3 linked regions of the Homo sapiens genome follow. The protein of the gene in region 3 interacts with the protein of the main gene of each other region in a pairwise test. Each region holds a gene or a part of one and is shown on either strand. Other genes may lie near its edges. The genes, in order: NFYC, HNRNPF and KLF15.

Region 1 (3,748 bases), on a different chromosome or scaffold from region 3:
TTTCTTTTAATTGGCAGTTTCATCTTTTCATTCCTCAGTGCCTCCTGATTGGGTGATGACATTTCTAACATTACAATCAAATCAGATAACTGTTTAAACAAGAACTTGGTGATGAAGGTTGGTGGACTGTTACAAAACAGGTCCTGTGCTGTGTGAGCCCTTTCTGTAGAGCAGTGCTTCTCAAACTTTATTGTCTGTATGAACCACGTGAGGGAGGATCTTCTTAAAATATTGATGCTGATTTAGTAGGTTAGGAACGGAACCTGGGATTCTGTGTTTCTTTTGAGTTCCCAGGTGATACCATTGCTGGTCCAAGGACCTTACTTTGAGTAGCAGGGCCGTAAAACAGTAGTCCTTAACTCTCACTTGGATCATAGTCACAAGGGGAGTTTTCAAAAAACATGATGCCAGTACTCTACCCACTAGAGCAGGGGTCCCCAACCCCTGGGCCACAGACCGGTATGGGTCCATGGCCTGTTAGGAACCTAGGAACTGGGCTGCACAGCAGGAGGTGAGCAGCCAGTAAGCAAGCATTACTGCCTGAGCTCCACCTCCTGTCAGATCAGCAGTGGCATTAGATTCTCAAAGGAATGTGAACCCTATCATGAACTGCGCATGTGAGGGATCTAGGTAGCACACTCCTTATGAGAATCTAATGCCCACCCTGCCCATCTCTGGAAAAATTGTCTTGCACAAAACTGGTTCCTGAGGTTGGGGACCACTGTCCTAGAGTTCCTGATTCAGTTGGTCTCCAGGAGAGAGCTCAGGCATCTTGTTTTTCAAAAGCTTTTCAGGTGATTCTAACCTGCAGCCCCAAGATTGAGAATCATTGATTTCAAAGGGTTGAGAATCTTGACTTGCCAGAGTGCCTGACTGGGTAGGCCTGGAAAAGGTTTCTCTTTATTATTTGAAACTCTGGATGTTCTTCAGTGCAGCCCAAGATCTGTTGACTTTTCTTTGTCTCCAAACTCTCATTGAGTGAATTCAGATTTGAATTTGTCTTGAAATGCAGCAGTTTCAGATGGAAGCATTTTTAACGTAGTTCTTTGGTAGTGGTCAGGAGCATGAGAATGTTCTGAGAGATAATCTGCTCTTCTGCCTTACTGATAGAACTCCCAAAAGTAGGGGGGAGCAGTGTGTGTCAGCTGTTCTTCCAGTTGAATCAGTATCAGGAGAAGGAGTTAAGGAGTTAAATGTTACTCACTTCAGTTACATGGTAGCTAGTGAAGTGGGGAGCATGAATCCAAGTTTCGTGGGCCTCAATCTACTGATTGTAGAGGGCCTCCCTTTTCCAACAAGCTTATGGTAAATCCTTACATGTAACTAGAAGGCTAGGATAGGATTATAGAAAACTGGGTGATTGTCAACAGGGATGAACCATACACACCCCTCAAGATCCACTTTTACACACTGCTTCTTGAGATCTCAAGGTTTCAGGAACATGAAAAAATAGTTTGTCACAAAGAAAAGCTTTGGGAAGGGGATTAAAGCAGAGCTTATTATAAATTTCTGCCTCATTTTACATCTCTGCAAGGCGGGAATGATCTCTTGATCCTTGACTTTTGTTGCTTTTGATTAAAGAAGAGAAATTGAAGGAGTAATAGTTTACTCTTTCAATTTGGGGAAAGAGGTCTTTTTTATCAACTTTGGGCTTTAGTTAAGTAATCATGGAACGTTCTTGTACAAATTATATTTAAAACCAAGCCAAACAAGAGCACACTTGCAAGAGAGCTAAATGTATGATCATCTTGTGCTGTATGTATTAGCCTGGGAGGTTTTCCAAAGGAATGATCATCCCTAGCATTCTCTTTGGCATTTCTATGTAGTGTCATCATCTTCTGTGATATGCCACACAAGAAGGAAGACCAGTGGTTGATTTCTGGGATTAAACTTTTAAAAAAACTCTTTAGGATCTGGCCCCAACCCAGTATCCTCTTTCCTGCTTTTCCCCTCTATACTCAGGTAGTAGATCTAAAACTTAAATAGGCTGTGATTTTTTGTCTCTCTCTCTGTCTTTGTTGTTCTGTCTGAATAACATTCTCATACTTTTTCAACAGGCAAATTCCCAGCATCCCTTAGACACAATTCAGATGTCATCCCCTTTGTGGAACATTTCCCAATCCCTCACTCTCCCTCCAGCCCCACATTGCTAGCTGTCCCTAGCAATATGTCCTTCTTTGTGTCCCCGCAGGGGATCCCTCCCCTCCAGTATTGGGTAGGGGATTATAATGTTTTTATGTGACTATCTCTGACAAACCACAAGCTCTTCAAAGGTAGGAGTAGATGTGTATTTTTTTTCTTTCTTTTTTAAATAGTGATGGGGTCTCACTATGTTGACCAGACTGGTCTCAAACTCCTGGCCTCAAGCGATTCTCCCATCTCAGCCTTCCAGAGTGCTGGGATTACAGGCATGAGCCACCATGCCTGGCCTACATGTGTATTTTTTGCATAGTAGTAGGTATCATACATTTACTATTAGTTGAGTTGCTTGAATCAGTAAATGAAAGAGCAAGGGGAAAAACAAGAATAGAATGAACCTGCGCTACTGTTTCCTTTTGTTGAAATTTTAATAAACTGAACTTCTAAGTCTCTGTTACTCCAGGGTTAGTTTTAGTAGAGGGTTCATGGAAAATGTTGATACCTAATTTGGAAAAGGAAAAGATGAAAAATTGGTGTTTGAAGTTTGTAGAGCAGAGTGGTAGCCAAGCAGCTTGTTGGGTTTGCATGGAAAAATTAGATGTCTTGGTGTACATTTTATCCTAATAGATTCTCTTCTTTCTATAATCATAAAATAGGTTCTGGGAAGACTGTTGATGTTTTTCCAAAATACCTTTTTTTGACATATATTTGAGATTTTCTGTTGGTCTTGCAAAAGAAAGTTCACTTATGCTTGTTAATTACATCAAATCTGAAATAATATATGCTCCTTCCATAATGTGATGATGCAAATTCCCAGGTGAGCATATTAGGTTTAGTGAGTCACATTTCAGACCACTTATAGAATCAATCATTTGACACCTAGTCCCAGTAGAGATTTTGCTGATTTTAGCTAATATCTGCCTTTGCACCTTCCTCTTCATTGCAGCTCTGAAACTCAAAATTGATTTTTTTCCTAGAATTGCATCCATCATTGGGCATGTGTTTAAATACCAGTAGTTTCAAAATAAAACAAAAAAGGGCTTAAGTCTCAAATTATTGAGTAGTGCTGATCAAAAAAGCCCTTTCCTAAACTATATCCACAGTGAAGTTATATGGTCCTCCCCCACTCCAGGCTTGTTAAGAAAAAATAACACAGCTGTTCCTAAAAGGCAGCTGACAAATTCACCCTCATCCTTTTTCTATACTCCTCTACCCCCACTTGAAACAAATTTTGGAGACAAGGCCATTGCTACTGTGATGAGAAAGGAGCTCTCCTCCCCAGTTTCTGTTGTCAGGTTAGTGCAAATGTCAGAAATGGCCACTATCAGTTGTAAAGAACTGTGGATCACTGTGGTCAAGTGCCCCGGCGTTGCTGTTAGTTTGGTCACTGAATGGAAGAAAGAACTGGCAGTTTAGAGGAATACCCCTGAGACAGAAATCTCATTTTAATCTGCATATTGCAGACTGGTAAACTTACTTGGAAAAAAAAAGAAGGCGCTCATAATGTCCCTCTATGTTGTGCTGACGAAAAAAAAAAAAAAACAGATATTGCTTGGGGCTGTGTTTCATGAGAGCACTGTTAGAGGCCATCCTAAGCTTTTTCTAAAGC
Region 2 (3,748 bases), on a different chromosome or scaffold from region 3:
AAATTCACCAGCAGACTTAGTTATGTGCACTGCAAATAAATGGAGAAACCAGATCAGATGATTCACAGGTTCACATAAAATATAGCAGAATTGCTGCCTTGTGCTGAAGATCTGGAAGAGGGCATCGGGAAGAAAGGGCAATCGCAAGAGGGCTGAGAAATGCCCTTCCCACCAGGGTGGTACATGGCACCTGAAGTCCAAACTCAGAGTAAGGCCAACCACACACTGGAAGGCAGTCTTCTGAGAAAGAGGAGCAGCTGACCTAGACAGCAGGGTCTATAACATAGTCACAAGCAAGAAAAACACTGCAGTATCATGGGGCCAAAGACGTATTTTTATATGAACACTGTCAAGGGTGACGCTCAAAAAGAGCATAGGAGTATATGGAATTTTTTTTTTTTTTTTTTTTTTTGAGACAAGAGTCTCACTGTCGCCCAGGCTGGAGTGCAGTGGTGCTGTCTCGGCTCACTGCAACCTCCGCCTCCTGGGTTCACGAAATTCTCCTGTCTCAGCCTCCTGAGTAGCTGGGATTACATGCACCAGCCGCCACGCACGGCTAATTTTTTATACTTTTAGGAGATACGGGATTTCACCATGTTGGCGAGGTTGGTCTTGAACTCCTGACCTCAGGTGATCCGCCCACCTCAGCTGCCCAAAGTGCTGGAATTACTGGCGTGAGCCACCATGCACAGCTGGAAATCGAATGTTTCAAAGTGTCATTTTACATCAAGCATAATAGATATAGCTGGTGGCCTTTTCAAGAAATATGGGCTCATCATGTGGGGAAAAAAGCTCCATAAGAAAACCCCACAATTTAAAAAACAGACAAAAAGTAAAGGTAAGTGTAATTTAAGAAAAGGAAAAGCAAATTCATACTAAATAAATGCTCAACTGCACTAGCTTCAGGGAAAATTAGTAATTTTAAAGTTTGATGTAGCCATTGCAGATAATGACATATTATCATACAGTGCTTCATCATTTCAAATTGACAACGTCTAAAAGGATAATTGTGTAAATCTTTCAAATTTACCTGTGTCTACACCAGATTATAAAGATAACAAGATGTGTCTCCTCTCCCAATAACAAGCATAATGGCACAAATGAAACAGAACAGTATGTGATATCCTGAACACATCACCAAGACCAAACACTCGGCATTTACTCACGAACTGTGATTTGGAATGCAAGGGCTTTCAAAGTATACAGCCTAACTAAAAGATGTCACCCTTGCTAATGAGAGTGGAACATGGAAGCCTCTGGGAAGAGAGTCAAGGGGAGCCTAACCTGGATTGCTCATTGCCCACCTCAAATTATTGACTATGTACATAAACTCCATCAACTTTTATAAAATAATCCTGAACGGCAAATGATTGGGCATAAATAATCCTATCCCCAATTCTCAAACTGTGCTTTGGGTCTGCAACAAACCCTGGGGTTTAGCCTCCACCTTAGAAAGTAATGGTCTCCGCCTCCCCAGGGCCTTATCTAAATCCCCTGCATATGGCCACTGCAACATGCTGATCTGGCAGAGCAAGGTCACAGCAGATTCTTCCTCTCCTGTCCACGGAGGGAATTCTGTGCTAACAGTTCAGAAGCTCCTCCTTGGAGAGTCAGGGCAAGTTTGTATTGTGTCTCTTGGGATAATGGGTCTGGGACAGCTCAATTACAGGTGGGGGCTTCTTATGCAATTCCATTCCCAACACTGGGTCAGGCTAGGCACCGCCTGTCCTTTTGTCTTTGACCATACCCTGGTCTTGCTCCTCACTCATGAAAAGTATCTGAAGGCCTCCCTCGAGTTCTGTTCCTAGCCTTAGGTCCAGCCATCGTTCCGGGTAGGGGAGATGAAGCCATAATCCACTAACCATTTTCTCCTGGACTCCTACCTCCAATGATTTCACCATTCCCTGCAGGAAACCCCACCTAATCACATCCTACTCCCTCCACCACAACTGCTATCCCCCTCCTTTGTAGAGACCTTGGCTTCCTTATCCACACAGCCTCTTTCTCTCCTCATTCTTCATAATCCAGCTTAGAGCAAGTATCATTTTACATTCCTTCCTCACAATACATGGAATTCATTCAATGAACTTCTTAACTGTACGCGCCCAGTAAAACCAGAGCTCTGGAAGATTCCAAACAAATATCTGACTACTCCATGGATGTACTGAGTGGCTCAGCTGCACACAGCCAGGCGAAACGGTGCCTCTAAGCTACAATTTCTCAGCCTCAGGACTACTGACATTTTGGACCAGACAGTTCTTTGTGTTGTGGAGGCAGGCCCAGGCACTGTAGGATGTTTAGCTGCATCCCTGGTCTCTGCCCACTAGATGCCAGTAGCACCCTCCACCTCCAGTTCTGACAACCGAATGTCTCCAGACATTCCCAAATGTTCTCTGGTGGCTAATGCTGCCCCCAAGTTGTGAAATACTGTAGAAATCAGGGTGAGGCCAGGCACAGTGGCTCCCACCTATAATCCTAGCACTTTGGGAGGCCGAGGTGGGTGGGACCACTTGAGATCATGAGTTCCAATAGACAAAACCTCTGTCTCGACTAAAAATACAAAAAACTAGCCGGGCGTGATGGTGGGCACCTGTAGTCCCAGCTACTTGGGAGGCTGAGGCAGGAGCATCGCTTGAACCTGGGAGGCAGAGGTTGCAGTAAGCCAAGATCGCACCACTGCACTCCAGCCTGGGCGACAGTGCAAGACTCTGTCTCAAAAAAAAAAAAAAAATTACCTGGACGTGGTGGTGGGCGCCTGTAGTCCCAGCCACTACGGAGGCTGAGGCAAGAGAATCACCTGAACCCAGGAAGCGGAGTTTTCAGTGAGTGGAGATCGCACCATTGTACTCCAGCCCGGGTGACGGAGCGAGACTAACTCCAAAAAAAAACCCACCACACAAGAAAAAAAAAAGAAAATCAGAGTGAACAGCCATAGAGTAAGCGGGCCCTCAATATCGCCCACTGTCCTACCCCAGCACCCTGCTTGTCCAAAGCCCTTCAGATGTCTGGGGCAGCCTTACAGACTCTCACCTCCTCTCCAGCTGGTTGACATTACTCTTGGAAGTGGACTTTGTGAAGTCAAGTCAGAGTCCAGGAGTTTGTAAGCACGTAGTGGGCCCCTTACAGCGGACATCGTGAACAACAGCTCTGCTCTGGGTCCAACCTCACATACCCCGGAGCCATGCTTTCTTCTTTTTTTCCTTTTCCCCTTTCTCCACTGAGCCCTGTCTACTTGGTAATTAAACATGCTCAGTTCTACCCAATCATGTCATACCTCCCCTGTGCCAACTTTGCCTCTAGCTACTTGTTGATTTGTTCAGCAAAATCTTGTCAAAAGGCCTCTACTGTCACTTCCACTCCCCTCCATTAAAACTGCATGATCAAGGCCACGTGTGGTGGCTCACCGCCTGTAATCCCAGCACTTTAGGAGGTCAAGGAGGGTGGATAACCGGAGCCAGGAGTTCAAGACCAGCCTGACCAACATGGTGAAATCCCGCCTCTACCAAAAATACAAAAATTAGCCGAGCATAGTGGTGGACACCTAGGTTGAGCGCAGTGGCTCACGCCTGTAATCCCAGCACTTTGGGTGGCCAAGGCAGGCAGATCATTTGAGGTCAGGAGTTCCAGACCAGCCTAGCCAACATAGTGAAACCCTGTCTCTACTAAAAATACAGAAAAATTGGCCGGGCACAGTGCCTCACACCTGTAATCCCAGCACTTTGGGAGGCTGAGGCAGGTGGATCATGAG
Region 3 (3,748 bases):
TGAAGGTGCTAACGATGTGTCTTTGCTTCCAAGCTTTTTCTGACCTTTTGCTGCAGCTTTCACCAAGGAGATGGGAGGCACTAGACTGAGAGTATGTGAGGAGTGAAGACCGAGGGCGGGCAGGGCAGATGGAGAAGTGCTGTGGCTATGCCCAATCCAGACCTGCACTGAGACAAAATGAGGAATACAGGCCTCTATCTCTTCTCTTATGAAAATGGACAAATTCCACTGTTCTGCCCAGGCTAGCCAGGGCTGCTGTAATGCCAGAGTGGTCATTCCAACTTCTGTGAACTAGAAAGCCTCTCACCATCCTCAACACAAATGTCCTTAAAGCCCTCTGGCAACGCATTGGTTTGGCTCCTAGTGGCAGCAGCAGCTGAATCCCTGGCACTGACCTGGTGCACAGTGTCCCCAGATCCCTGGTCAAGCAAGCCTAGACCTATAGCATTCCAGAGAGCCTGGAAAGGGTATGGTTAAAAATTCCTGTTCTAGCAATGTCTTCAAGAAGAAGCAGGAGAAAATGCTCCCCACCTCCCAGTGCCAGGAGGGGAGAGGAAGGAAGCTCAGTAGGACAGCTCTGCACAGGTGGCCTGGGGGTGTCTGCAAGATGACCTGGCTCTACCTCTCTACCTGCTCCTTCCCAGCTGTGGGGCTGGGGAGGGCTGGTGCCCTCTCTGAGTCGGTTTCTTCATCTGTAAAGTGCTTGGCTGAGGATCCAGCTGGAGTGTGGATTAAAGGGCACAGCAGGGTGCCTAGCACCGTCAGCCCACGTGTTTTTCTTGGGCAAGCCACTCTGAGCCTTACTCTTCCTGTCTCTAAGCGGGAACCCAAATGCGAGCCAGGATTGCTGCGGACTAAAGCAGTCTACGAACGCTTTTGTAGACTGCGAAGCATTGTTTGGTCTTCAGAAAGGTGCCCCAGAGACAAGGTGTCATTGGTTTCAGGTGGGGGGGGGGGGGGCCGGTCAGCAAACCTCCTTAGTCCTGGAGGGCAGGGTGGCAGCGCAGAGCGCGCGCAATTTCCGGAGGGTAACTGATTGTCCTGCTGAAAGCCCAATACCGTATTTATCCAAAAATACGTCCTTCTAGGCAAGTGATTTATCTGACACTCAGCGGGGGACAGAGCTGCTTGTACCGCGCTGGGGATGAAGGTGGGGACGTGGGCCAGACCGGGCCAGACAGGCTCCCCAGCGCTTCCCGCTCAATCACGCAGACTGCACTTTGGGGCGATCTCAGAGCTTTTCTTAAGTCTTCAGGCCAGTCTCACGTTCTCACCTTGGGAACCGAGCTTTAGAAGCCGGCCCTCGTGGACGCCGCGAGACAGCGGCGAGAGGTGGGAAGCAAGGAGGTGGCTGCGGGCCAGGGACCAGGCAGCGTGTTGGGGGGCGTGCGCGTCTGGCAGCTCCGGGATCCCCGAGCATCCGCCGCTCAAGTCCGGGAGCCGCGCGGGCGGGCCGGGGCGGGGCCAGGGCGGGGCCAGGGCGGGGCGGGACGTGTGACGCGCAGCGCGGGCCAATGGGGCGCGCGCCCGGGGCCGAGCCTCCTGCGAGCCTTCGCGGCGCCCGCTGCGTCACGTGAGCGGCGGGGAGTGAGTGCCCAGCGAGCTGCGGGCGGGCTAGTGCTCCGCCGCAGCGACCCGCGGGCCGGCGGGCGATCGAGCCAGCGCAGGACCCGCGGCTCGGCCCCCGGCCGCCGCCGGACCGAGAGTCTAGCCGCCGCCCCCAGCCCAGCCCGCCCGGCCGCAGGACCGCCGGGGCCTGGCCGCCGGTCCGGCGTGCGCCAAGTTCAGGTGGGAGAGGCGCGGCGGGGCCGGCCGGCCGCGTGGACGCGGCCCCGGGTGATCAGAGGGCTGGCCGGCCTCGGGGCGCGTGGCCGTGCTCCCGCGCAGCTCTCGGAGGCACCGCGCGAGTGCTGGAGGAATGTCGGAGGAGCGGGATGGGCCCCCGCGGAGGTGGGCAGGGGTCGGACTGGCCCGGGGGAGGTGACCCCCCCCGCCCCGGTCGCCCACCAGCACTTTGCTGAGGCCCGCGCCGCCGCCTCGGTGCCTGGCCGGGCGATTCCGTGGCGCGCCTTGCGGGCCGGCCCTCCCATATGGTGGGCACCGGCGCGGCCTGGTGAGAGGAGGGGGAGAGCGGACGCGCTGGCCAGCCCGGGGTTGGGGGGCGGAGGGGCTGGAGACGGAGGGGTTACTGTCGGTCACCGCAGCAGTGTCGGGGGCAAGGGGGGGGCGTGGGACGAGGGCATGGTGCCCAGCGGGCAGCGGTCCAGGACTCTAGAAGGGGTCTGAGCCGGCTCTCTTCATTTCCCACGCACGTTTCCCCTCACCCGCCGGCACCCACGGCGGCTCCACGCGCGAGTCCTTCGCGGACAGCCTCCCGCACAGCCACAGCGGCTGCCGCGCACCACGCCCCGCACACGCAGTCACACGACAGGAACTCACACCCCTTCACGCACACCCGCACCGTTCACGCGTCTCACTCCACGCTGAGTCCCCGTCCGCTCAGACCGAACATTACCAAAGCCATGGCCTGACCGAGGGATGGCGGCGGCGGGGCAGAGAGGCCGTCCCCATCCCATATGGTGGTCCGGTTCACTCTTCCCTCCCCGCCTTGGTGTTACTCATGGAACCCCCCTCTCACGGAGGGCACAGAGGGGCTGTTTTCTCCCACGGCCCTCGGAGGTGACAAAATCAACAATTGTTTGAGAGCCTCAAATCTCCTTCCCCCTGTCCCCCCGGACCAGGTGGCCCCTGGGGAGACCCTGCCGCCCTACAGGTGTGAGGACGCCCGGACTCTGCGACTTTGGGGCCTGCGGGCGGCTCAGGGACCGGAGACTCTTATTTTGAAGGACAGCCCCCGCCGCCACCCCCGTGATTTGCACGCTGACCCAATGGCAAGCCCTTGGCCGGCGCTGGGCTTGTTATCAATTACATGTTGTTCCTGCAGCCGCTGTGTCCCCGGGAGGATAAACAGCAGGCCTGGCCGGGCCAGGGGAGGGGGCGGAGTCCGGCGGCCAGCCGGGGACTGTGCCCGGAACAGCGTGTCCCCTCCCCCTGCACGCAGCCTGCGCCTCTGGCCGCCCCACGTGCTGCTGTGTTTCAGGGGCCGAGCCAGCTCCAGCCCTAGAGTGTCCTCTCTTTAATGCCGGTGCCCTGGGACATCCCAGAGCCCTTTCTGGGTTGTCAGTGCCTGGGTGCTTCCCCCTTGGGACGTTCAGCCCAGCATTAAGACCCTGTTGGCTGACCTGGGCCACCCATTCCTACTCTCCGACCTCCCCCGCTCTCCCCCGCACCTTCCATTCACTCATTCAGCAAATTTTGCCCGGTCCTGTTTTAGACTCTGGGATATGGCCTTGGAGTGAACAGTCAGGACAGCTGATATTCTGATGGGAAGGTAGACAGGGAGGAAAGTTCACAAACACATCACCAAGATAGTTTCCCACAGTAGAAACTGCAGGGAAGAGTATAATATAGGATGATGTAACAGAGTGGGCCTGGAGGCCCCCACAGGGGTGACTTCTGAGCCGAGATCTAACTAAGCAGCTCCCACCTGCAGTGCTGGGGGAAGAGCCAGGGCAGTGGCCCCGGGCTGAGGCTGAAGTGAAGTGAGCACACCTGGACTAGAAGAGAGGCAGTTGGTGGTGAGGTCTGCAGAGAGTCCCAAGGGCCCAGGTGCTGGGCTGCTGCGAGGAGATAGGGCCACCTGTCCTTGGGAAGCCATTGGAGGGTGTTTCCTTCCAGCCCCCCTACT

Evidence for each region.
Region 1: the proteins of KLF15 (region 3) and NFYC interact in binary tests that used the Homo sapiens proteins (3 or more experiments, as listed by UniProt).
Region 2: the proteins of KLF15 (region 3) and HNRNPF interact in binary tests that used the Homo sapiens proteins (3 or more experiments, as listed by UniProt).

What each region holds. Positions count from the first base shown.
Region 1 is NC_000001.11:40,743,579-40,747,326, forward strand, and holds part of NFYC (nuclear transcription factor Y subunit gamma), read left to right. Parts: intron 1-3,748. UniProt on the Homo sapiens protein: Component of the sequence-specific heterotrimeric transcription factor (NF-Y) which specifically recognizes a 5'-CCAAT-3' box motif found in the promoters of its target genes.
Region 2 is NC_000010.11:43,388,578-43,392,325, forward strand, and holds part of HNRNPF (heterogeneous nuclear ribonucleoprotein F), read right to left. Parts: intron 1-3,748.
Region 3 is NC_000003.12:126,355,277-126,359,024, reverse strand, and holds the start of KLF15 (Krueppel-like factor 15), read left to right. Parts: upstream 1-1,616; 5' UTR 1,617-1,788; exon of another isoform or gene 1,789-1,918; coding exon of another isoform or gene 1,919-1,950; intron 1,951-3,748. UniProt on the Homo sapiens protein: Transcriptional regulator that binds to the GA element of the CLCNKA promoter. Binds to the KCNIP2 promoter and regulates KCNIP2 circadian expression in the heart. Is a repressor of CCN2 expression, involved in the control of cardiac fibrosis.